4 separate regions of the Homo sapiens genome follow, and all the other regions are linked to region 3. Evidence: fine-mapped expression QTL. A gene starts in region 3. Each other region holds a variant in brackets. All regions are shown on one strand. Distances are from middle to middle.

Region 1 (6,362 bases), 800 kb after region 3:
TTAGCATTAAACACTTTGCATACCAGGAAATACTTCAGACCTGGGAAAACTTAGTTGGTCACCGAAATTGACTGTTGAGGGGCATATAGTCATATCTAACCTTTTGGGACAACATAAAAGACCACTGAATTAAGTCCTGGCTATTTGCTTCTAGTCATGATGTCCCTGCAATATATGAGCCTCTTGGTTCTGAGCTCAGGCATCTTTCAGTCCACTGACCCTTTTGGAGCCTCCATGTAACACCACTAAAATGGGATATAGAAATGTCTGTGTTTCCTGCATATCATTCAAAATTTGTGAGAAGTTAGAATCATTGCCTGAGCTCGTATGTTTGTAGTTAATTTATTTAGTCTTTTTATGTCTTTAGATACCTTTATTTGTCTTTACTCATACATGAGAGTTTAGGTATAAAATTCTAGTTTAATGATTATTTTTCCTTGGCATTTAAAAAGATATAATTTCATTTTCTTCTGGAATCTATTGTTGCTAATGAATCTCTAGTGGTAGTCAAATTGTTCCTTGGAAAGTAATCTCTCTTTTCTTTATATTATTTATTTTTTCCTAAAATTTCCCAAAGATATGCCTAGCTGTTGGTTTAATTAAATTAATTATTTTTATTTTTTTTCCCACCCATTTCTCCTTAATTTTATTTAACTTCCTCAGTACTCAGAGTACATTTTCCCTATAAAAACCTATGGATTTCTTCAATTATGAAAAATATTCAAATGTTTCTTTTTCAACATCCACTCCATTTCTTTTACAAGAACTTCTATTAGACATATGTTGGAACTTCTCAATCTATTTAGCTTATCTCTTCACTAGTTTCAGTTTTTAAAACATCTTTTCCTTTTTTTGCTTTATTTTTGGCAAATTCCTGAATACTATCTTTCACTTAATTAACTTTCACTTTTATACCATCATATCTGGAGGTGATTTTTCTATTGTTTCTTTTTATTTCGATAAATGTATTTTTCCATTTATAATATTTTTAAATGATTATTCTATATTTGCAATTGCTTTGTTCTTTCAGTTTTTGTTTCACATTTTTAATGTAAAGTATCCCAGCATTTGTTTCTTTGAGGACAGTAAAACTCTAATTTTTTTTTTTTTTGAGACGGAGTCTTGCTCCATCTCCCAGGCTGGAGTGCAGTGGCGTGATCTCGGCTCACTACAACCTCTGCCTCCTAGGTTCAAGCAATTCTCCTGCCTCAGCCTCCTGAATAGCTGGGACTACAGGCACGCACCACCATGACCAGCTAATTTTTGTATTTTCAGTAGAGACTGGGATTTCACCATGTTGGCCAGGATGGTCTTGATCTCTTGACCTTGTGCTCCGCCCACCTTGGCCTCCCAAAGTGCTGGGATTACAGGCATGAGCCACCCTGCCCGGCAAAACTCTACTTTTTCCTTTTTCTTTTTCTTTCTTTCTTCCTATCTAAAATTGTACTTTAAGTTCTAGGGTACATGTGCACAATGTGCAAGTTTGTTACATAGGTATACATGTGCCATGTTGGTTTTCTGCACCCATCAACTTGTCATTTACGTTAGGTATTTCTCTTAATGCTATCCTTCCCCCAGCCCGCCACCCCCTGACAGGCCCCGGTGTGTGATGTTACCCACCCTGTTCTCATTGTTCAATTCCCACCTATGAGTGAGAACATGCGGTGTTTGGTTTTCTGTCCTTGTGATAGTTTGCTGAGAATGATGGTTTCCAGCTTCATCCATGTCTCTGCAAGGGACATGAACTCATTCTTTTTTATGGCTCCATAGTATTCCATGGTGTATATGTGCCACATTTTCTTAATCCAGTCTATCATTGATAGGCACTTGGGTTGGTTCCAAGTCTTTGCTGTTGTGAATAATGCCGCAATAAACACACGTGTGCATGTGTCTTTATAGAAGCATGATTTATAACCCTTTGGGTATATACCCAGTAATGGGATCGCTGGGTCAAATGGTATTTCTAGTTCTAGATCCTTGAGGAATCGCCTCACTGTCTTCCACAATGGTAGAACTAATTTACACTCCCACCAACAGTGTAAAAGTGTCACTATTTCTCCACACCCTTTCCAGCATCTGTTTCCTGACTTTTTAATGATTGCCATTCTAACTGGTGTGAGATGGTATCTCACTGTGGTTCTGATTTGCATTTCTCTCATGACCAGTGATGATGAGCATTTTTTCATGTGTCTCTTGGCTGCATAAATGTCTTCTTTTGAGAACTGTCTGTTCATATCCTTCACCCACTTTTTGATGAGGTTGTTTGTTTTTTCTTGTAAATTTGTTTAAGTTCTTTGTAGATTCTGGATATTAGCCCTTTGTCAGATGGGTAGATTGCAAAAATTTTCTCCCATTCTGTAGGTTGCCTATTCACTCTGATGGTAGTTTCTTTTGCTGTGCAGAAGCTCTTTAGTTTAATTAGATCCCATTTGTCAATTTTGGCTTTTGTTGCCATTGCTTTTGGTGTTTTAGTCATGAAGTCCTTGCCCATGCCTATGTCCTGAATGGTATTGCCTAGGTTTTCTTCTAGTGTTTTTATGGTTTTAGGTCTAACATTTAAGTCTTTAATCCATCTTGAATTAATTTTTGTATAAGGTGTAAAGAAGGGTACCAGTTTCAGCTTTCTACATATGGCTAGCCAGTTTTCCCAGCACCATTTATTAAATAGGGAATCCTTTCCCCATTTCTTGTTTTTGTCAGGTTTGTCAAAGAACAGACAGTTGTAGATGAGTGGTGTTATTTCTGAGGCCTCTGTTCTGTTCCATTGGTCTGTATATCTGTTTTGATACCAGTACCATGCTGTTTTGGTTACTGTAGCCTTATAGTATTGTTTGAAGTTAAGTAGCGTGATGCCTCCAGCTTTGTTGTTTTTGCTTAGGATTGTCTTGGCTATGCAGGCTCTTTTTTGGTTCTATATGAACTTTAAAGTAGTTTTTTCCAATTCTGTGAAGAAAGTCATTGGTAGCTTGATGGGGATGGCATTGAATCTATAAATTACCTTGGGCAGTATGGCCATTTCCATGATATTGATTCTTCCTATCCATGAGCATGGAGTGTTCTTCCATTTGTTTGTGTCCTCTTTTATTTTGTTGAGCAGTGGTTTGTAGTTCTCCTTGAAGAGGTCCTTCACATCCCTTGTAAGTTGGATTCCTAGATATTTTATTCTCTTTGAAGCAATTGTGAATGGGAGCTCACTCATGATTTGGCTCTC[T/C]GTTTGTCTGTTATTGGTGTATAGGAATGCCTGTGATTTTTGCACATTGATTTTGTATCCTGAGACTTTGCTGAAGTTGCTTATCAGCTTAAGGAGATTTTGGGCTGAGATGATGGAGTTTTCTAAATATACAATCATGTCACTTGCAAACAGGGACGATTTGACTTCCTCTTTTCCTAAATGAATGCACTTTATTTCTTTCTCTTGCCTGATTACCCAGGCCAGAACTTCCAACACTCTGTTGAATAGGAGTGGTGAGAGAGGGCATCCCTGTCTTGTGCCAGTTTTCAAAGGGAATGCTTCCAGTTTTTGGCCATTCAGTATGATACTGGCTGTGGGTTTGTCATAAATAGCTCTTATTGTTTTGAGATACATTCCATCCATACCTACTTTATTGAGAGTTTTTAGCATGAAGGGCAGTTGAATTTTGTCAAAGGCCTTTTCTGCATCTATTAAGATAATCATGTGGTTATTATCATTGGTTCTGTTTATATGATGGATTACATTTATTGATTTACATATGTTGAACCAGCCTTGCATCCCAGGGATAAAACTGACTTGATTGTGGTGGATAAGCTTTTTGATGTGCTGCTGGATTCAGTTTGCCAGTATTTTATTGAGGATTTTCACATCAATGTTCATCAGAGATATTGGTCTAAAATTCTCTTTTTTTGTTGTATCTCTGCCCGGCTTTGGTATCAGGATGATGCTGGCCTCATAAAATGAGTTAGGAAGGATTCCCTCTTTTTCTATTGATTGGAATAGTTTCAGAAGGAATGGTACCATCTCCTCTTTGTAGTTTTGCTAGAATTCGGCTGTAAATCTGTCTGGTCCTGGACTTTTTTTGGTTGATAGGCTATTAATTATTGCCTCAATTTCACAGCCTGTTATTGGTCTATTCAGAGATTCAACTTCTTCCTGGTTTAGTCTTGGGAGGGTGTACATGTCCAGGAATTTATCCATTTCTTCTAGATTTTCTAGTTTATTTGCATAGAGGTCTTTATAGTATTCTCTGATGGTGGTTTGTATTTCTGTGGGATCAGTGGTGATATCTGCTTTATCATTTTTTATTGCATCTATTTGATTCTTCTCTCTTTTATTCCTTATTAGTCTTGCTAGCAGTCTATCAATTTTGTTGATCTTTTCAAAAAACCAGCTCCTGGATTCATTGATTTTTTGAAGGGTTTTTTTGTGTCTCTATCTCCTTCAGTTCTGTTCTGATCTTAGTTGTTTCTTGCCTTCTGCTAGCTTTTGAATGTGTTTGCTCTTGCTTCTCTAGTTCTTTTCATTGTAATGTTAGGATGTCAATTTTAGATCTTTCCTGCTTTCTCTTGTGGACATTTAGTGCTATAAATTTCCCTCTACACGCTGCTTTAAATGTGTCTCAGAGATTCTGGTACATTGTGTCTTTGTTCTCACTGGTTTCAAAGAACATCTTTATTTCTGCCTTCATTTCGTTATTTACCCAGTAGTCATTCAGGAGCAGGTTGTTCAGTTTCCATGTAGTTGTGTCGTTTTGAGTGAGTTTCTTAATCCTGAGTTCTAATTTGATTGCTCTGTGGCCTGAGAGACAGTTTGTTGTGATTTTTGTTCTTTTACATTTGCTGAGGAGTGCTTTACTTCCAACTATGTGGTCAATTTTGGAATAAGTGCAGTGCGGTGCTGAGACGAATGTATGTTCTATTGATTTTGGTTGGAGAGTTCTGTAGTTGTCTATTAGGTCCGCTTGGTGCAGAGCTGAGTTCAAGTCCTGGATATCTTTGTTAACCTTCTGTCTCATTGATCCGTCTAATACTGACAGTGGAGTGTTAAAGTCTCCCATTATTATTGTGTGGGAGTCTAAGTCTCTTTGTAGGTCTCTAAGGACTTGCTTTATGAATCTGGGTGCTCCTATATTGGGTGTGTATATATTTAGGACAGTTAGCTCTTCTTGTTGCATTGATCCCTTTACCATTATGTAATGGCCTTCTTTGTCTCTTTTGATCTTTGTTGGTTTCAAGTCTGCTTTATCAGAGACTAGGTTTGCAACCTCTGCTTTTTTTTTTTTTTTTGCTTTCCATTTGCTTGGTAGATCTTCCTCCCTCCCTTTATTTTGAGCCTATGTGTGTCTCTGCACATGAGATGGGTCTCCTCAATACAGCACACTGATGGGTTTTGACTCTTTATCAAATTTGCCAGTCTGCGTCTTTTAATTGGGGCATTTAGCACATTTACATTTAAAGTTAATATTGTTATGTGTGAATTTGATCCTGTCATTATGATGTTCGCTGGTTATTTTGCCCATTAATTGATGCAGTTTCTTCCTAGCATCGATGGTCTTTACAATTTGGCATGTTTTTACAGTGGCTGGTACCAATTTTTCCTTTCCATGTTTAGTGCTTCCTTCAGGAGCTCTTGTAAGGCAGGCCTGGTGGTGGCAACAATCTCTCAGCGTTTGCTTGTCTGTAAAGGATTTTATTTCTCCTTCACTTAGGAAGCCTAGTTTCGCTGGATATGAAATTCTGGGTTGAAAATTCTTTTCTTTAAGATATTGAATATTGGTCCCCACCCTCTTCTGGCTTGTAGGGTTTCTGCCGAGAGATCTGCTGTTAGTCTGATGGGCTTCCCTTTGTGGGTAACTCGACCTTTCTCTCTGGCTGCCCTTAACATTTTTTCCTTCATTTCAACCTTGGTGAATCTGACAGTTATGTGTCTTGGGGTTGCTCTTCTCAAGGAATATCTTTGTGGCATTCTCTGTATTTCCTGAATTTGAATGTTGGCCTGCCTTGCTAGGTTGGGGAAGTTCTCCTGGATAATATCCTGAAGAGTGTTTTCCAACTTGGTTCCATTCTTCCCATCACTTTCAGGTATACCAATTAAATGTAGATTTGGTCTTTTCACATAATCCCATATTTCTTGGAGGCTTTGTTCATTTCTTTTTACTCTTCTTTGTCTAAACTTGTCTTCTTGCTTTATTTCATTAATTAGATCTTCAGTCACTGATATCCTTTCTTCCACTTGATCAAATCAGCTACTGAAGCTCGTGCATGCATCACAAAGTTCTTATGCCATGGTTTTCAGCTCCATCAGGTCATTTAAGGTCTTCTCTACACTGTTTATTGTAGTTAGCCATTCGTCTAACCTTTTTTCAAGGTTTTTAGCTTCCTTGCGA
Region 2 (6,362 bases), 620 kb after region 3:
GCCTTAGATTTTAAATCCAAGCCAAAGCTACCTTGTGTTCTTGGTGGGACACTAGATACCTATCTCGGTCCCATTGTTGTGGGATTAGGAGGATTAGAGAGAGACTTTGGGGTGTATGTAGGAGGGTATTTTTATTACTGAGTGTATTTAGATTTAGTAGATTTAATGTTTAAAGATTGGGTTTAGAATAAAGATAGTATTTGATTTTTATGTATATTTTATAAAAGGGGGTGGGTTAGTTTGAAGTAAGTTTATAGTGGCGTGAAAGTAGGGATCTAGAAGCAGGATAAAGATAGTTAATTAAATTGTAATAGGTTTATAATTTATGATTGTATATGATTGTTTTTAACTAATTTAGATGTTTATTATTTAGGTTTTGTTTTAAAGAGTTTTGTATTGGTTTATTTTATAATTTTTATTATGGTGTTTAATAGTTGTAGTTTTAGGTTTGTTTAGTTTTTTTATGATTTTTGTTGTATTTTTAGAGAAAATAGAATATTTGAAGTTATTAGTTATAGAGAATAAGAATTTATAAAAATATACTTATTGTTGTCTTTGAAATAAATTAATTTAATATAGAAAAATTTATTTTATTTTATTATTATTTTTTAAATTTCCTGCCTCACCATTGCATGAGAACCTAATCAGCCCTCTGGGATGAAGTCTCTGGCTTTTTTACTCCAGTATCCTGGAATCCTGTTTCTGAACTCTAGTCTTATGCTTAAGGTCTTGGCCACCATTGAAAATGTTCCTGGTTCAGCTTCCCTGTGCTTGCTTCTGACCTGGGTCTCCTCTGGATTTGCTGTCAGCTGCTTATTTGCTTGTCACAGCAGCCCTGAATCCTTCCACCTCCAGCAGTCACCGAGCCTTCTGGATACTCTGATTTATTCTTCAAACTGGACTGACTCCCCATACCTTCTGCTGAACAGATTTCCAGGAGCATGTGTACCACCCCAGTGTGCTGCTCTGTTTGAGGTCCTATTTCTTGACCTTGGCCGAGTCCTGCCATAAGGTTATGCAGGAAAAGGCTGAGCTTTAATATTAGGGGAGCATCCATAAATGAAAGAGAGGAAATCATCTGCTATATTTAGGAGCAAATAAAAATTTTAAGAGTGGGAAGGTCTTATTGAAATGTTTTCTAGTCCGTGAATCCTCTAGTCTTTTTTGGCTTCATTTGGTGTATTATAGGATGAAACGTTATTTTTATGTCAAATGTTTACTTTCAAATGAAAATGTTAAACACTTCTGTGTTTTGCCATATCTTTCTTTGATGTCGACTGAATAGATGGCTGTCCATGCCTTGCAATTGAAGATGGTTTTATTTTGTAAATTATTTTTCTCTCTGTTTTTGCCTTTTCAGGTATTACACAATGGCCTCGTTATGGAGATGGAGCATCCAACTGTGGGGAAGATTTCCGTCCCAGGTCTGAAAAGTTTTGGTATTTTCTCTAGCACCTTTCTTTATTAATTGTCCCATATGCTGTTTACTACAGGTAGCTTATGAGCTCCCAAACAACTTTCCAAGACATTATCCAAATTTATAACATTGGGTAAAAGGGGAATCCTAGGACTGCACTCACAAAAATGTATGCTGAGACTATGGCATTGTGTCTTAGCTCTAAGGAGTGTCGGATTGCCACGATGACAAAAAAATGCTCGCATTTCTTAATTCCATTTTGTGTAATCACGTGCTCACAAAAGTACATCATGTAATTATCAACAGGTTGATAGTAATAGGTATGGCCAATAACAAGAAATAGAGTGTCGTTCATATGAGAATTGGAAAGAAAGCCAGGCAAGATGTAACTGGAGTCCGAGGAAGGCTACTGACTGCTCAGGCTCGGGCATTTTCTTTCAGAACCGTGGTTTAAGGTGTGGATCTTGGCTTTACAGAACAAGAAACTAAATGTTTTCAGTACACCCAGAATAGATTGAATTTTTGGAAGTTGATTCATACTAAACCAGCTCACCAGAGACTGCTGCCTAAGCCGAAATGCCAGCTTCTTTACTTGCAGAGGGAGCTCTTATTTCAGCAGCCAGTAGCCTCATGCCTACTCTCAAAGCATCCTCTTAAGTGGTGCATTTAAACTGCAGTGAGAGCTTGTGACCAATACATTTCCCTCCCACAGCCTCCATTTCTCTGATAATCACAATATTACCTTTATCAGATATGTTTTTTCTCTATTCCAGGCATCGCTGGAAAATCCACATTCCAGCAATGGAGTTCCAAATTATTTGTTCATTGTGTCCATATTTTCTAGACTAAACACAAACCAAGCACTTATTTTTTTTTCTTTTCTTCTGATGGAGGTCAGTGAAATTAGCTAGGATATAATTTTTGTTATTGTTTTTTCCTAAAACCGTTTCCTGGCCATCTTACTTGGAATTTAGGTATCTGCCAAACTCTTCAGTCACCTCAGTCAGGTGGCATAGAGTATTTACTTCTACAGGCATCTGATCTCATTTATTGAAGGACTATTCTTGTTAATTTTATCCTAAATAGAATCTAAGATTTGGGATCAGCTTTATAATAATCTCCCATAACCTACCAGATAGTGACCACTCGCGCATGAAAAGAGTAAGA[A/G]GAGGGAAGTATGATGAATAAAGAAAGTTGAAGAGAAAATTCTAATGTTCAAGAACATAAGGAATATTATGCATGGATTAAGGAAGGTAACTAAGAGAGCAGGTATAAGCAAATGAAAAACTGAGATCACATGTTCTAGGGAAATGTTATATGGTATAGAAAAGTGGTAGAAAAAAATGTTGACAAAAGCTAAGAAGTTCATCAGTTCATCCACTCATCTGTATTACTGAGTATATACTATGTGCCAGGTACTGCTTTGGGTCCTAAAAATACAAAAATAAACCAGACAACTTCACCCCTGGCCACCTGGAACTGATACTTAATAGAAAGTTGAATGATATAACAACCAACAAATGTTTCTATAACTGTAAGTCATAAGTGCAAAGAAAGAAAGAAGAATGTGCTGTCATAGAGAATGATGGGGTCAGATGGGGCCTTCTGTAGTTTAGGTGATCGAAGAAAGTCTCTCTGAGAGGCAGACTTATAACATGACACTGAGGGGCAAAACGAATAGAGGATGAGCATTTCCAGCAGAGGGAACAGCATGGGAGAAAACCCCGAGGTGATGAAGTGTGGGGTGTGTTCTAAGCCAGGATGAAAGGTGGGGAAGTGGGGCAGGAAATGAGACTGGAGAGGTAGGGAGAGCCTGGGGGCCCTGTTAAAGTTGTGTTTTCTCTCGTTTTAAGTAGGGGAATAAAATCACACAATTTACAGCTTAAAGCCGGCGGTCAGGTTAGGAAGTGATACAGGAGTTTAGGTGATAGTGTCTTAAATTAGGGTCATGGGAATAGAAATAAAAAGAAGGGGTGGTTAAAATAAAAAATGTAATCATAAGTCTTTGAGTATTAGATCTTTAGAAAACATCTGGTCTAGTAGTTTTTGATATTTATACAGTAAAACTGATTTTCCACATGAAGAATCCGTAGCTAACACAGATGGAAGCAGAGTTAGGCTGATTGATAGGTTAGCACTCCTATTGTTTAGCTTTCCTCCTCTGCCCACCATGCTGTGGTCTTCCACACATCTCTCCTTGGAAGTCTGGGCCCTGAAGAACCAGTGATCACTTAACCCCACAAGTTTACAGATGAGGTCATACAGGGGTTGGTATCCCCAACACATTAGAGAAAGGGTAAGCATTTGAAAGTCAATATGATTGTCAGCATGATAATGAGGAAAAAAGTAAGTCAGTGGCCAACCAAGAATGAACTCATTGGAGGTAACACTCTTTCAGTCAGGCGTAATTTGCTGACTTTCACTGTAAGTGAACGAAAGCTAAATCTCAGCAGGAGGGAAGTATTATTTACAGATTACTAGAAGGGAAGAATATTTCTTTTGCCCACTTTAATTTATCAATGTATCAGGTAGCCATTGTCACAAGAATGCTGTGTAAGAAATAACCTCAAGCTCTTAATGGTTTTCAAACATAAGCATTTGTTTATCCCATGCATGTGGATTAGCTGGGATGTTTCATATAGTTTGGGCTCAGCTGGGTAGCTTTGCTTCTAGTTCCAGGTCTGGCCAGGTTTAGCTCCTGCCTGTGCTTGGAGTCATTTCTAATCCGTGTGTCTCTCCTACTCTTCTGACGGTCATGGCTGCAGAACACTGGGGCAAGCAGAAACCACAGTGCTATGTAAGATGTTGGTGTACAGCTGGCAAACCCTTATGCCTGCATCTTATTAGTCCAAGCAAATTTTATTTTTTAAATTAATTTATTTTGAGACAGAGTCTCACTCTGTCGCCCAGGCTGAAGTGCAGTGACGCAATCTCAGCTCACTGCAACCTCCACCTCCCAGGTTTAAGCAATTCCCCTGCCTCAGCCTCCTGAGTAGCTGGGATTACAGGGACGTACCACCACACCCAACTAATTTCTGTATATTTAGTAGAGACGGGATTTCACCATGTTGGCCAGGCTGGTCTCAAACTCCTGACCTCGGGTGATCCACCTGCCTCGGCCTCCCAAAGTGCTGGGATTACAGATGTCAGCCACTGTGCCCGGGCAAAAGCAAGTTTTAGGCTGTATCCAAAAGGGTGGGGAAATACATGTGACCCTTTCTGAGAGAAATTTCAAAGTTATATGGTGAGGAGCATGGGCACAGGGAGAAGTAAATAATTGGAGTAAAAAATTCACTTGACTACAACAGAGTTCTCAGATCCACAGCAATTTCTTTCTCCTTTTTTTGTTTTAATCTCCCTTTGGAAAATTCTATTTTTGTTTAGTGTTTATAGGGCTTAGTCATCTTTTTGGTATGTCTATCTTGTTATCTTGTATTCTTTCTATAGAATTATCAATATGGGAATTCCCAGATTTGAGATGAAATGCATGAGTCTAGTTAATGTTTGGAATTAGAATCTGAGTGTGTTTTGAGTGCAGCACATCTGAATTCCTCATGAGAGGGGAATGACAATTCTGCTTACAGATGTCAGATAAAAAGAGGCTATTGTATCTCCTAATTCAGTATATCCCAATAAGAGGCCACATAAACAGGACAAGAGTTGTTAAATGCAAAGGGAATGTATCAGTAATATAATTTACAATTTGTCTGTGGATTCTACCTGTCCTTGATTTTATTTACCTATGATAGTTCTGCCTTTCTTTGTTGGGGATGTTCCCATTGGAGAACTCATAAATGCTATAGACATAACTCAGTTTCCTCAGAATGTCTCAATATGGTAAGTCTGCCAAAACAAGAAACACAAGCTACAGTTAAAGGTGACTTTTGCTACACTGTTTTCTGGTTAACTAGTGGAGACACATTTTGAATTTGCTAGACATAGTTCTATAGATTTACACATACATATCCACATCTTCACGTTTACAGTAACAATCCTTATTAGGATTGTTATTAGCATTATTAGCATTACCAGCTTATTACCATTCCAAATTATTCTACTTATTTATATTTCCTGCCTTATTTATGAACTTCTTGCAACCAGTACTGAATTTTCTGTATGTCACACTAATTTGCCTGAAGCACTTTCTTAGTCATTACCAGAAACTTGTCTCTTAAAAACAGCAGTAAATCATGTGATATTTATAGAGCCTTCTTTAGAGTTGTATAAATCCACATAGCATTCCTTCAGATGAGAGCTTATTGATTAATACATTAAAGATACTGGTCAACTCGTGTTTAATATACTTTGGACAAGGATAGGAAATTATTTACCTCTTAAAAATCCCTTTTGGCTACTTAAAGAAAATAATTATTTCAGCCATTTAGTACATTGTTTCAATCTTTGTAATCATTACCATTATTAAAATACAATAAGTAGTATCATCTAAACTATTTCCTTTATTATATCTGTTGCAAATACTCCCTTTCATATGAGTCTCTATCATCTTCAAACTATAATAAAGAGTTAGGAAAGAAATGTAATTTGTGTTTACAGATGATCTGGTTAAAACATGCAAACTAGTTAAGCCCATGAATTATCTCTAAGTGTGAGTTTTAGTTATGCTAATGCTATTGTTCTTTATTTAGTATATTATTCATTAAAGTACTCCCTCATCTGAACTTTAAAGCCTATTATACAGTTAAAAGTGAAGAGAGACAAAGAAAAATGAACTATCAATGGGTGTATAAGTGAGAACAGGTATTATGTGACTCTTTGCCAGACTCTAACATTCTGGTGTTCTAAGAGGCCTCAGTGAGGGAAGTGGTTGTTAGTTTGAGGTCACCATTAGCTTAATGATAGAAGTGTCAGCATGATAGGCACAATGTACTAATTTGCTCTTAATTAATATAACCTGTATTGAGTGCTAAAACCTCAAACATTCCCT
Region 3 (6,362 bases):
TCATGCCTGAAATCCCAGCACTTTGGGAAGCCAAGGTAGGGGATCACTTGAGACCAGGAGTTCAATCGAGACCAGCCTGGCCAACACGGTGAAACCCCATCTCTATTCAAAATACAAAAATGAGCCAGGCGCGTGCCTGTATTCCCAGCTACTCAGGAGGTCGAGGCGGGAGACTCGTATGAACCTGGGAGGCGGACGTTGCAGTGAGCCAAGATTGCGCCACTGCACTCCAGCGTGGGCAACAGAGTGAGACCCTATTTCAAAAACAAAACAAAACAAACAAAAAAAACAAAACATGGTCTCTACTAAAAATACAAAAATTAGCCAGGCATGGTGACATGTGCCTGTAGTCCCAGCTACTCAGGAGCCGAAGGTTGCAGTGAGCCAAGATTGCACCACTGCACTCCAGCTTGGGCAACAGACTCCATCTCAAAAAACAAACAAAAAACCACTTGATTTTTAAAAAATAGTTGGGGTAACAATTCTTCCATATTTTTCTCTCCAGAACTATAGGTATATATCCATAGCATCCCTTAATTTGGAAAACCACTTCTCTACTCCAGGTAGGCCCAGTGGTGTTCAAGGTCACAGAATCCTGTCTCATTATGGTGATGTGTCCATGATTCAAGTTAATTAGGTCTCACTGTGGCCTTGGCCACAGTTAATTGGTTCAATAATACAGAAACATGATCTAAGTATGGCAAATTTGTCTTCTCTTGGATTGATGGAGATGAGAGATGTTCTTTTTGCAATGGAAGTGATTTGAGGCTGCTGGTAGCTATCTTCTTTGGCCTCAAGAGAAACTAACTCCATAATGCTAAGAGGTATAGAGAAATTCAGATAGAACACTTTGATTTAGCAATGCATGGTCTATTCTTGCCTTTTCCAGTTAAATGAGTATAAAGTTATGCTTAAATGGGTTTCTGGGGCTTCAAGTTTTAATGCATTTTAACAGAAGCATTAGATAAAATGAGTATGAACAGAACTCTGTTATTCTCATCCTCATTATTTACGAACAAATACAGAGCTGTCTACAGCTCAAAGGATGGTTTACCTATTTCATTTTCAAAAATAATTTGCAAAACATTTACCTATGAACTCTAAGTGACTACAAAGCATTACTGTAGTAAGTCTACTTCTTTATCATACCACAAAACCACAATAGCTAGAAGACAAAATGTTTTATTTTAAAACATTGAAAAAACATTAAAAGACAAATGTCCATTATGTAACCAGGAATGTTAAATATATGGAAACGGTAAATCTCTAAAATGTGGTAGGTACTTCCAGAGCTAAATGTTGCAAGTTATCCTACTTTTTTCTCTAATATCAACAATACCTGATACGATGAAAAATAACAAAAAGACCTTACTAATTATCCAATCAAAGTCATCATCTTTGGGTAAATTTATATCAACACAACTTAAAGTTTTGTCCAAGATGTTCCTGACACATGAAGCTTCCAGTTGAATTTCAGAAATGTTAACAAAAGTATCTTCCTTTTTTGCCTGTGAATGTTTGAGTATTGCTGTATTGTTGGCTTATATCCACTACAGATACTGGTTCTAGGCCAGCCCAAGGATCTTCAAGCATTGAAGGCTTGAAATAATTTTCCAACTCATTAGACATTCTTTTTTCTCTAACACGCCCTGATCCAAATGGTGTAGATGTCCTTGGAGAACCCTTTAGAAAAAAAATCAGTTAAAAAAACACTTAGTAAAGATAATTGGTACTTCTTCCTTTAGCTAAAGGTTAGCGGGAATCACATTGCTGCTTAAAAGTTGTGACTTGAACCTAAATAATGTTCAATTACAAAGTCCATGCTTCCTTTAATCAAGTGTTCCTATTTTTTAAAAAAAGTACTTAAAGCAATTCGTTATTCTCATTTATTTATAATTCCATGACCACTGTCATCTCAAATACTTTTGTGTCTAATGTAGTAACTTTGCAGTAATTAAATACAAGCAGTGATGAAATCAAGTAATTATATTCAATTTTCCCTCGAAATTTTCACTTTTTTCAGGAGAAAACAATACTATAGTTTTAAAGTTTCTAGAACCTTTCTAGCTCATGAACATTTTCTTTACTCCTTAGCTCCAGGCTCAAAAGGGGTAGGGGGTTGGTGTAGAATACAGCAAGTTGGAAAACCACGTAGTTGCAAGTTGTAAACCACAGAAATCCCAGACATGCTAGAGATACTCTCTCTGTCTTTTGTATTTACTCTCACTAAAGGAATGGAAAACTTCCACTACCACCGATTTTCTTTTCAGGGAAGTTGGAGCAGAAGCCAGTGTAGCTCGAAAGAAAGATAAAAAAAAAAAAAAAAAAAAGAAAAAGAACTATTTCTTGAAACAAACTGGCAAGGCCTTTGGCAAACAGGAGGAAATGGAGAATTAGGAAAATCTGTGTACGGGTGGCAGTGTATTGGTTAAAAGCACGAGGGCTCGAAAACAGAACGTACGGCTCTGCCACTCTTTCGGATAATCTTCCGGAAGTCACTCAACTTCTCTAAGCCTCAGTTCGCTCATCTGCAAAATTGGGCTAACAATAGTACCTCAGAGAGGATTAGACAAAATAATCCACGTAAAGGGAATATTAGTACCGTGCCTGCCATAAAGTAAGAGCTCGGCAAACGCTGGCTATTATTATTACCTGGGGGTGGGTCTGCTGCTGCCCTGGGGAGTAGCCGAATTGCTGCTGGGACCCCGCGGGGGACCTGGAGTAGGAGCCAGGGTAGCCGCCAGGGGACGGAGACCCGAACCGGCCCCCCGGGAAGCTGCCGCCGTGTCGCGGAGAGTGACTGCTCCCGTACGGCCTAGACCGGGGCCCGTACGGCGGCGTGTGGTGCGGACTCCCGTACCCGTCTCGAGGGGAGGGCGGCCGTGGTCCGCCCCCGCCCGGGGTTCCCCGGAAGCTGCTTCCGCTACCCCAACCTCCTCCACCCGGACCAGGGTAAGGAGGAGTTGGGGGCCGAAAATTCTGTCGCTGCATATCAGGAGCCAAAGCCGAAAACCTCGCAGCCGCGTTCTCCCACCGGAACTGTATCAACCGGCCCTCCGCAGAGAACTGCTAGTCCTTTACCAAAACAGTCCTCCGACCGCAGCCACCCTACGGCACATCAGTTCCGGCGTCACAAAGGTTCCGCCAGGGGCGGCGGGATTACCTAAATCACTGACTTGGCGAGAGACTCAGTGGATTTAAGTGAAAAGAGGAAGAAAAGGAGACAGGAAAGGACGGACACCCAAGCCCAGCAACAACCTTTCCAGTCTGAGTGCCCTTGGTCTGACCGACAGACTAGAAGCTGGCCCAGCAGGCGACTAGTGCTCAGCCCCGCCCGGCGGGGGCGGGGTCTGCGGCGTCCGTGGGCGCCCCCCAGTGGCGGCGGGTGGCGCCGCACGGAGTTCGCCGCTTGCACCGGGACCGATGCCATCTGAGACGCACGCGATGCTGGCGACGCTGGCGAGGGTGGCAGCTCTGCGCAGAACCTGCCTCTTCTCCGGCCGGGGCGGCGGGAGGGGGCTGTGGACTGGCCGCCCGCAGTCAGGTACCCTCCGAGATTCGGTCTGGGTGGCTAAAGGGATCCCTGCCCCAGCTTGCCTCCTCGGGCGCCCTGAGGAGAGCAATTAGGGTCTGAAGTCTCTGCTGACCCCTTAGCGGTGGCTTTGCTCGCCTCCCTGCAACCCCGTTCCGTGGGCCTGCGGCCGGCCTGCCCCGCTCTGGCCGCCCAGGGTCGCCTCTGTCCCGTGCGTTGTTGTGACCGAGGGCTCCGTGCGCCGTGGGGTCCCGCTCCTGCGCGTCCCGCGGCTCGCGTTTGGGGCCTCTTTACTCCTGTCCTTTCGTCCGCCAAGTTTAAGTAACTTCGAAAATGCACACCAAGCCACATTTCAGAAAGGACTTTAGCCCGCTGCTTTGAATAACTTGACACTTCATGTACAATAAAAGATGCCCTTGTACAGTTACCTGTTGCAGAATTTTATTTAGAGGATGAAATTTAGCTTTACTACAGTGTTATAGAACTTTCTTTACTCCCTCTGAATTTGGGAATGGTAATCCACTATGAATCTTTTTTTTCCTTTTTTCTTTTTTTCTCTTTTTTTTGAGACGGAGTCTCGCTGTCTCGCCCAGGCTGGACTGCAGTGGCGCGATCTCGGCTCACTGCAACCTCCTCCTCCCGTGTTCAGGAGATTTTCCTGCTTCAGCCTTCCGAGTAGCTGGGATTATAGGCATGCGCCACCACGCCCAACTAATTTTTGTATTTTTAGTAGAGACGGGGTTTCGCCATATTGGCCAGGCTGGTCTCGAATTCCTGACCTCAAGTTATCCTCCCGCCTCGGCCTCCCAAAGTGTTGAGATTACAGACGTAATCTCTATGATTATGCGCGCGGCCCACTATGAATCTTGAAATTAGTTGCAGGATGCAGGATTTTTTTTTTTTTTTTTGAGACAGTCTCGCTCTGTCGCCCAGGCTGGAGTGCAGTGGCGCGATCTTGGTTCACCACAACCTCTGCCTCGCGGGTTCAAGCGATTCTCTTGCCTCAGCTTTCTAGAGTAGCCGAGATTACAGGCATGTGCCACATGCCCGGCTAATTTTTTTGTATTTTTAGTAAAGACGGGTTTCACCATGTTGGCCAGGCTGGTCTCAAATTCCTGGGCTCAAGTGATCCGCCTGCCTCTGCCTCCCGAAGTGCTGGGATTTCATGCGTGAGCCACCGCGCCTGGCGTAGGATACAGAATCTTAAAAGAGCTTTAGGACTCATTAAATCATAGCCTAACGGGTAGCCTGGACCTGTGATTTCCATTCACCCTCTTGTAGCTGCTACTCCTCGCTGTCTCTTTGACATGTTCTGTGACATCCCAAGCTGACGAGTGTGGTATCTTCTCAGCTTCTATCCTCCTTGATGAATGGAGACACACACAGACAGTTTTTTTGTTTGTTTATTCTGTGGAAATTCAATTCACTACATTTCGTTTCTTCTGTAGATACAAGTGATAGACTTAATCAAGGTAGCACGTTGCCATTAAGGCTTAGTGATACAATTAAGGTCGGAGGACTCCAGCCTATCCACTTTATTAAATACAGTAGTTCTGTCCTGGCCAAAAATTCACCTTTCTGGACATTGTCTTTAGTGTTTAACTTAATGCTTGGGAATTGCTCATTTGAATATTTATTGAATAAAATGACCTAGGTGGGACGATTGCTTGAGCCCAGGAGTTGAAGACCAGCCTGGGCAACATCGTGAAGCCCCATTTCTACCAAAAATACAAAAAAAATTAGCCGGGCTTGGTGGCGTGCGCCTGTAGTCCCAGTTGCTTGGGAGGCTGAGGTGGGATGGCTTGAGTCCTAGGAGGTTGAAGCTGCAGTGATCCGCTATTGTGCCACTGCACTCCAGCCTGGGTAACAGAGCGAGACCCTATCATGCCCCCCCACCCCACTGGAAAAAAAAAAGGTTCACATACATCACATAGGTAATTTTCACCTTTTAGATCATCAGCCAGTCTACTCAGGGGAGGGGGCAGAAAAGTGAGAGTGGTGGGGACCAAAATTAACTTTATTATTATTATTATGGACATGGGGTGGTCTCACTCTGTCACCGAGGCTGGAGTGCGGTGGTGAGATCACAGATCACTGCATCCTCGACCTCCTGGGCTCAAGTGATCTTCCCACGTCAGTCTCCCAAGTAGCTGGGAGTACAGGCTCATGCTACCATGCCTGGCTAATTTTTTTATTTCTTTATTTTTTGTAGAGACAGGGTCTTGCTGTGTTTCCCAGAACTCCCCACCTCAAGCATTCCTCTCTCCTGCCTTGGCCTCCCAAAACTCTGCAATTAAATGGTGTGGTGAGCCACCATGCCCAACCAACAAATTAATTTAATAGTAAACAGTTTAACTGATGGACGCCTAATGAGTATATAGATCTTTATTCCATCAACCCATTTATCTGTATAACTTCAATCTAACTAAAGTTCACTAAAATTTATTAAAATTCAAAAGCCATGCTCTTTTTAAGCTTCTAGTAGTACATTTTGTAGCAAGATAAAAGTGACCAATAAAAAAGTTTGAGTTGTGTTTTTCTGTCGTATAGCAGTATACTCTCTCTATATATTTTTTATTTATTTAAGTATTGAGACATGTCTTGCTCTTTCATCCAGGCTGGAGTGCAGTGGCGCAATCCCAGTTCACTGCAACCTCTGCCTCTCTGGGCTCAAGCAATCCTTCCACCTCAGCCTCCCAAGTAGCTGAAACCAGAAGTGTGTGCCACCATGCCTGGCTAATTTTTGTATTTTTTGAAGACATGGGGTTTTGCCATGTTGCCCACACTGGTCTTGAACTCCTCAGCTCACAGAATCCAGCCACCTGGGCCT
Region 4 (6,362 bases), 450 kb after region 3:
CCACTTTGGTACTGAAAGTATTGAACAGGGACATGCACAATCTCACCCAGAACTTACTGTAAATTACAGTTCTGGACAAACAGACATCGCTCTCTATAACAATAATAAGGAAAAGTCACCGAGAGAGATTACTTTCAGAAACAATAAAGAAATACAAAACCATTCCATTTTCTATAAGGTCATCACAGATTACAAGCTAAAATAGAGTCTGAATGTGGAGTCCATCCCCTTCAAAATGGTGTTACTTGCAGTACGGTGAAGTGCATATTTTGTTGGTATAATCTGTACGTGATTTCCTAACTGAGGGCATATTAACAAATTGTGTACTGGTTTTAGTGTCTCTCAACAATGAGATATTTGAATTCCATTATTATTTCACAGGCAGAACTGAAATGAGTCAATATTTTGCCACTACACTATTATAATTGAGGCACAGGGTCTTGAGTTGAATATTTTTCATTAATAAAAGTCCCATAAACATAATTCATAATTTGGGTATTTGATAATCTTCTATTTGTAGACACTATTTTTACCTGTACTGAAGGTAAGCTTGTGGCCCAAACTTGGAAATGGAGTTCCTTTCTTCGTATGCTGGAGCAGAAGTCCTCCTCATCCTCTGTTAATTGCAGCTTCAAACATCCTCATCATTAGGTTGCTGGTGCAGAGCAAGTGCTCTGGCGTCGATAACTTCAGCTTTCTCTAATGACTTTGCTTCAACTTCCTCATCTATACATTAAGGAAACTCTTCGTAGCTTCCTCATTGGGTGGGCCCTTAACTCCATGGCCGTCACAGAGCACATAGTCAGTATATATTAGCTCTGTATCCAAAAAGTTTAGAAAAGTGGTTTAATAATGTCAATACAGGGCATTTTCTATAATAGTAATGCTGGTATTATTAGTATATCCTAAATATTGTCATTTATTTTCATAAGCAATTTTGGATCAGTTGTGTTTTATGTATAAGTAAACATTTCTTAAAAATTAAATCAGCGTAATAGCAAAAACTGACTGTGAAAATACAGAACACAAAAACTAGCAGCTCAATAATTTGCCTTGCAACACAGTACCCTTAAATAACAACTAGCTGGTATTGGAAGCTAGTTGATTTCATTTTGAAATCAACAAATGAATTGAATGGGGTGGTACATCCGTAAAGGAAAATATACTTTAAAGTATTTAAACTCAAGTAAAGAGCAAAGGTGAGAAAACAGCCTTTGAAATCCTGTCATAAGGCAATATAAAAGTCAGAATCTTCATTGTTAATTTCAAGTGATTGAAGTTTTTTCTTGAGTATAGAGGGAGATAGATTTTTCAATTTTTTTTTTCAATTTTAGAAACTCTTCTTTCCTGTATGGATTGATCTTTCCTTGGCTTTTCTAATGAATACTTTTAGTGTTATACCTTTATCCTAAAGTGATCATTGAAAATCACATATCCTTTCCGTTGGTAGTTTAAATATGTCTTCCCTGGAATTGTATGATGATATTTAGTGTCATTGAGTCAATTATTTTACCTTCACATCCAGACAATTACATTTAAAATGAATTCTTAAACATTCAGAATTGAAAAGAAGGTTTCCACATTAAACCAATGGCTCTTTTGGCATCTACTACATGCCTTAATTTTTACCACATATGCATAAATTGGCAAAGTATCTTATGGGTTATAATAATCCTGATGGCTTGGAATTAATATATTGCCATCATAGAGCAAGTCCTGAGCCCATCTACTCTGAATCTTTGGATAAAGACAAAACTCCATCCTGCCATGCACCTGGTCAGTTGTGCAATGCTGACCAATACACAGCTGCTAACAATAAGGGTATTGTGCTTATGTAACCCAGTTCAGGATCTGATGGTTAGTCTCTCGATACATGCTGAAACACGAGGGAATTTTTACTTGCCAGGATGCCTGCTTCATGGAAAATATTGTGTCTATGTTGAAGCATACACTTACATCTCTCTATATAAGTTGGTGGAGTTGAATTCTACCAGATTACCTTAGCTTTCCAAGTCAGTTCAGGGTTAAGGCTCTCTCAGTCAAGAAAAGGTCATACAGTGTGGCGTCGAATGTAATTTTAGGAATTGTTTTTTGAGCACTTGTTTTATCAAGTTAACAAAAGTCTGTATTATGTTTCTTCTCATTGATGTGGGTGTGTCCTTGTGTGTGTATTATTCGAGAGAGGCTTCCATTTGTTGAGTGATCTTCATGCAAACATCTTGGAGTGCTTTACAAAAGAATTTTAAAAATCAAACCAAACAGGATATGAAACTGTGCTGCCAAACAAGTAAGTCTTTAGGCATGATTTAAATTTAGTTAATGACATAAAGAGCTAAATCTGTGAAAGGAAGAAAGTTCCTTGGATCAGAAAAAAAGCAGAAAACAGATACTCATATTTTGTCTAAGTCTTCATTTGAGTAGCTCCAAAAATGTTCTTTTAGAAGTGAAGTTGGAAAATCCCAGGCTAAGTGAACTCCAAGGAGCAGTGTTTTAGGGGAAAAGACCAGATAATAGTTCCCATGTGCATAGTGATCTACAGATTGCAAAGTGTTTTCCCAGCCATTATCTCATTTGACCATCACAACACTCCATCAAAGTAATTAAGGACAGTGTTACCCCAGTTTACAGATGAATAAACTGATGACAGGAGAAACTAAGGAATTAAATGAGGTGATAGAGCTAGATGGTGATAGAGCTGGGATTGGCATATGGATATTGTTCCAAATCCCATGTTGTATATACAGTAACATAAGGCTCCACTGTGGCGAACTATTTACACTGGATACTTTTCTCCTGCCATTATAGCTGCCTTGGGAGTGATAGTAATGACTCTGACTTCCCAGGGTATCTTAACATTCTGCTTCCTCTCAGGAGGATCTCCTGACATTCTTGTGTAAATGGAAAAGTAGAAAACCAGGATCTTCTAAGGCAAGTGCATTGTAAATGATAATTTCATGCCTTAATCTTTTCAAAACATTTAAACTGGCTTTGATGATTCACCTTTAAACTCACCCTTCAATAGTTCTCAGAATCCTCCTTGAGAAGATGAAATTGGAATGATCCCATCAGCTCTGGCAGTTGTAGGTGGATTCTAATGGTAAGGGACTGTAGTGGGGAAAATGGGGAATTCTTAATGAGCTCCCTTTCTATTGCTGACTTGAACCAAATGTAGTTATCCTTGAACGTTTGAGGATTCTATAAGCATTGTGGTTTCAGACAGTGAGTCATAACCTTGTGCCAGAGGGGTGGGTGATATAGTATCTGGATTGATTCATGAGACATATAGTGGCTTTTTAAGGTATATTCTGAAATGAGTCTTCCAGCAGTCAGGTTTCGTTGTTGTCGTCTTTGTTTTGCCTTCTTCTCTGAAAACACAATTATTTTCTCATTCAAGGTTTGGACTTTAAAAGCTTACTTTTTCCTTGAGACACCTTTAGCTTGAGACAAATCTAGGAAGAACATCGTTTTGTGATTCTGTAGATCTTTTGACAAAGTGGATCCTCCTGCTTCAGCCTCCCTGACAATTACTTTATTTTTTGTAGAGGCGAGATCTTGATATGTTTCCCTGGCTGGTGTTGAACTCTTAGGCTCAACCCATCTTACCCCACTTGGCCTCCTAAAGTGTTGGGATTTCAGGCGTGAGCCACCACACATGCCTCTAAACTTTTTTGTTTTGTTTTTTGAGA[C/T]GGGATCTCACTCTGGCACCCCGGCTAGAGTGTATTGGTGTGATTATATCTCACTGTGGTCCCGACCTCCCAGGTTCTGGTGATTCTCTTACCTCAGCCTCTCAAGTACCTGGGATTACAGGTGTGCACCACCACACCTGGCTGATTTTTGTATTTTTTGTAGAGATGAGGGTTTTGTCACGTTGCCCAGGCTGGTCTTGAACTCCTGGGCTCAAGCAATCCATCTGTCTTGGCCTCCAATGTGCTAGGGTTACAGGTGAGAGCCACTGTGCCTGGCCAACTTCTAAATTTCAATGACTTATTATTTTTTTTCTTTTACCTGCCAGACCTTGGTAATCATTTCTTCTTTTAAATTTTTTTAATATAATTGTCCAGGTGGTTCAAGATCCCCTAAAAGATGCTGTATCATTGCTTAAGGTAGAATGTCTTGCACAGAATAGGAGCTCAGTCGATGTCTGCTAATTATTAGTTTTTCCTGTTCTATATAGAATTATATAGTTTTAAGTGTTAGGCAATGTTTTTAACTTAGAACTTAAAATGGAAATCACTATGATGATTAAAATATTCTATATCCTCATTGCCCAATATGGCAGCCACTAGCCGTTTTGCTTGAGCACTTGAAGTGTGGCTTCTGTGACTGAGGAACTGGATTTAAATTTTATTTAACTGTAATTAATTTAAATGTATAAAGCCACATGTAAGTAGTGGCTGCCAGACTGGATGATGCATGCTCTAAGAATGTGCAGAATGGCAATCTAAATGTGAACTGTGAGTTAGAGAAGTCCTCCTGGAGGAAGAGGAACTTGGGTCTTGCAGAAGGGAAGCAGAGAGAAGGGGTGAGGTGTTTTAAGTAAGGAATATAGTAAAAGCTCTGAGGTGATTGACAGTGTTAAATTTGGGATTAGTTTCAAGACTGGAAGTAGAGCAGAGTTTGAGCACTAGGGACAGTAGTAATAATAACAGCAGACACTTACCAATTTACAGGCCACATACTAGTTTAATCTTCACAACAATACTCTAACTCGAAGAATATAAGTAATTTGCTCAAAGGTACAAGTTGATATTGGACCTGAGATTGGAACTCATATCTGTCTAGCTCAAAAACCTAAGCTTTTAACCACAATACTGTGCTGCCTTATGATCTGCCATGTTTAGAAAGACTTACAAGTAGGAAATAGCCTAAATGTCTTTTAACTGGTAAATGAGTAAACAAATAATGGAATACATCCAATCAATGGAATACCACTTACAAATTTGAAAAGTAACAGAACTACAGATATATGTAACAACATGGATGAATCACAAATGTATTATGCTAAGTGAAAGAAGCCAGAGGTGAAGAGCTATATACTGTATATTCCATTTGTATGACGTTCTAGAAATGGCAAAATTATAGAGACAGAAAACAGGCTCAGGAGTTGCCAGGAGCTGGCAGTGAAAGGCAGGGATTAACTATAAAGAGACACAACAGATTTTTTGGGGGACATGATGAAAATAGTGTGTATCTTGATGGTAGTAGTGGTTACATGACTATACATTTGTCAAAACTCAGAGAACTGTGAACAAAAAGGGGTGAATTTTACTGTATATAAATTGCACATCAGTAAAGTTGAATGATAAACAAAGACAGACTTACAAGTAGATCCAAGTTTATTTTCTCAATATGTTAAGTTATTGTAACCAGGCTATTTTGAAAAATAAATAATTCTAAAATTCTTGTGTCTAAACATGTCTTCATATTTATGATAGATATATAAATATATACAACACATATAATAGAAAAATGATGTAGAAATTAAAAATTCATAAAAGTGATGTGTGTGTGTACCTAAAGCAGTTAAATTTGCATTTAACATGAGTTGACACATTAAATGTTTATTCAATTTAGTGTTTATTTGTCATTGCCATGGCAAAGCAGTTGGAGGTGAAAGAGGAAGTGATGTTTTAATTAACATGATTGGTAAGATGTCATATGACTTATCCCATTTTCCTTTTATTGTGTTTAAATGAAAATAGCTACCATATGAAATCATCAATCCTTTTAAAGCTTGCTTTAAAATTTTTCAATACATAATGGAATTTTCATTTTCACTCATATTTCACTTATATAAATCACTTGTATGAGACAACAGTAAAATGGATATCTTTTAAACAGATATATTTATATCCTCCTTTTATATTTCTTTTTCTTCTTTCTTTCTGTTTTTTTTTTTTTTTTCCAGACAGAGTCTCACTCTGCCGCCTAAACTGGAGTGCAGTGGTGCAATCACAGCTCATGGCAACCTCCGCCTCCCAGGCTCAGGCGATTCTCCTGCCTCAGCCTTCTGAGTAGCTGGAATTACAGGCGTGTGCCACCATGCCCGGCTAATTTTTGTATTTTTAGTAGAGACAGGGTTTCACCAATTGGCCAGGCTGGTCTCAAACTCCTGACCTCAAGTGATCTGCCCGCCTCGGCCTCCCAAAGTGCTGAGATTACAGGTGTGAGTCACTGCGCCCAGCCCTCCTTTTGTATTTCTAAGAAAATTCTCTTTTTTTTTTTTTAATTATACTTTTAAGTTTTAGGGTACATGTGCACATTGTGCAGGTTAGTTACATATGTATACATGTGCCATGCTGGTGCGCTGCATGCGAAATAAACTTCCTGAAGGTCTTATATCACTCTGTGTTCACTAGTTT

Direction of the effects. Positions count from the first base shown, and alleles are read on the strand shown. Sizes are in standard deviations (SD) of each study's normalised expression. Not every link is listed here.
With allele A in place of G in region 2, the expression in adrenal gland of the gene that starts at base 3,429 in region 3 is higher (moderate effect, 0.43 SD a copy in GTEx).
For the expression in skeletal muscle of the gene that starts at base 3,429 in region 3, allele C in region 4 goes with a higher level than allele T (moderate effect, 0.44 SD a copy in GTEx).

The links. PIP is the estimated chance that this variant, and not a neighbour inherited with it, causes the effect. A credible set is the group of variants that fine-mapping cannot tell apart.
Region 1: its variant is the best candidate, but not a certain one, in a credible set for the expression of SUGCT in whole blood (INTERVAL, PIP 0.66).
Region 2: its variant is the best candidate, but not a certain one, in a credible set for the expression of SUGCT in adrenal gland (GTEx, PIP 0.79).
Region 4: its variant is the best candidate, but not a certain one, in a credible set for the expression of SUGCT in skeletal muscle (GTEx, PIP 0.72).

Annotation. Positions count from the first base shown.
Region 1 is chr7:40,927,507-40,933,868 of GRCh38, forward strand. It overlaps a transcript of SUGCT not described here. Among named protein-coding and RNA genes, the nearest start is that of LINC01450, 49 kb to the right of the region's middle. The variant T/C (reference allele first, on the strand shown) is at 3,212.
Region 2 is chr7:40,748,074-40,754,435 of GRCh38, forward strand. It overlaps SUGCT (succinyl-CoA:glutarate-CoA transferase), which reads left to right. Exons shown (of 14, transcript NM_001193313.2): 13 at 1,361-1,424. Among named protein-coding and RNA genes, the nearest start is that of SUGCT-AS1, 200 kb to the left of the region's middle. The variant A/G (reference allele first, on the strand shown) is at 2,585.
Region 3 is chr7:40,131,577-40,137,938 of GRCh38, forward strand. SUGCT (succinyl-CoA:glutarate-CoA transferase) reads left to right here and starts at 3,429. Exons shown (of 14, transcript NM_001193313.2): 1 at 3,429-3,544. The coding sequence starts at 3,445. MPLKIP (M-phase specific PLK1 interacting protein) reads right to left here and starts at 3,046. Exons shown (of 2, transcript NM_138701.4): 1 at 2,653-3,046; 2 at 1-1,683. The coding sequence starts at 2,991. The coding sequence ends at 1,483. RefSeq lists silencers at 2,772-2,841, 3,302-3,501 and an enhancer at 3,052-3,121.
Region 4 is chr7:40,582,016-40,588,377 of GRCh38, forward strand. The region is part of intron 12 of SUGCT (succinyl-CoA:glutarate-CoA transferase); the gene reads left to right. The region is part of intron 3 of LOC105375244 (a long non-coding RNA gene); the gene reads right to left. Among named protein-coding and RNA genes, the nearest start is that of SUGCT-AS1, 38 kb to the left of the region's middle. The variant C/T (reference allele first, on the strand shown) is at 3,687.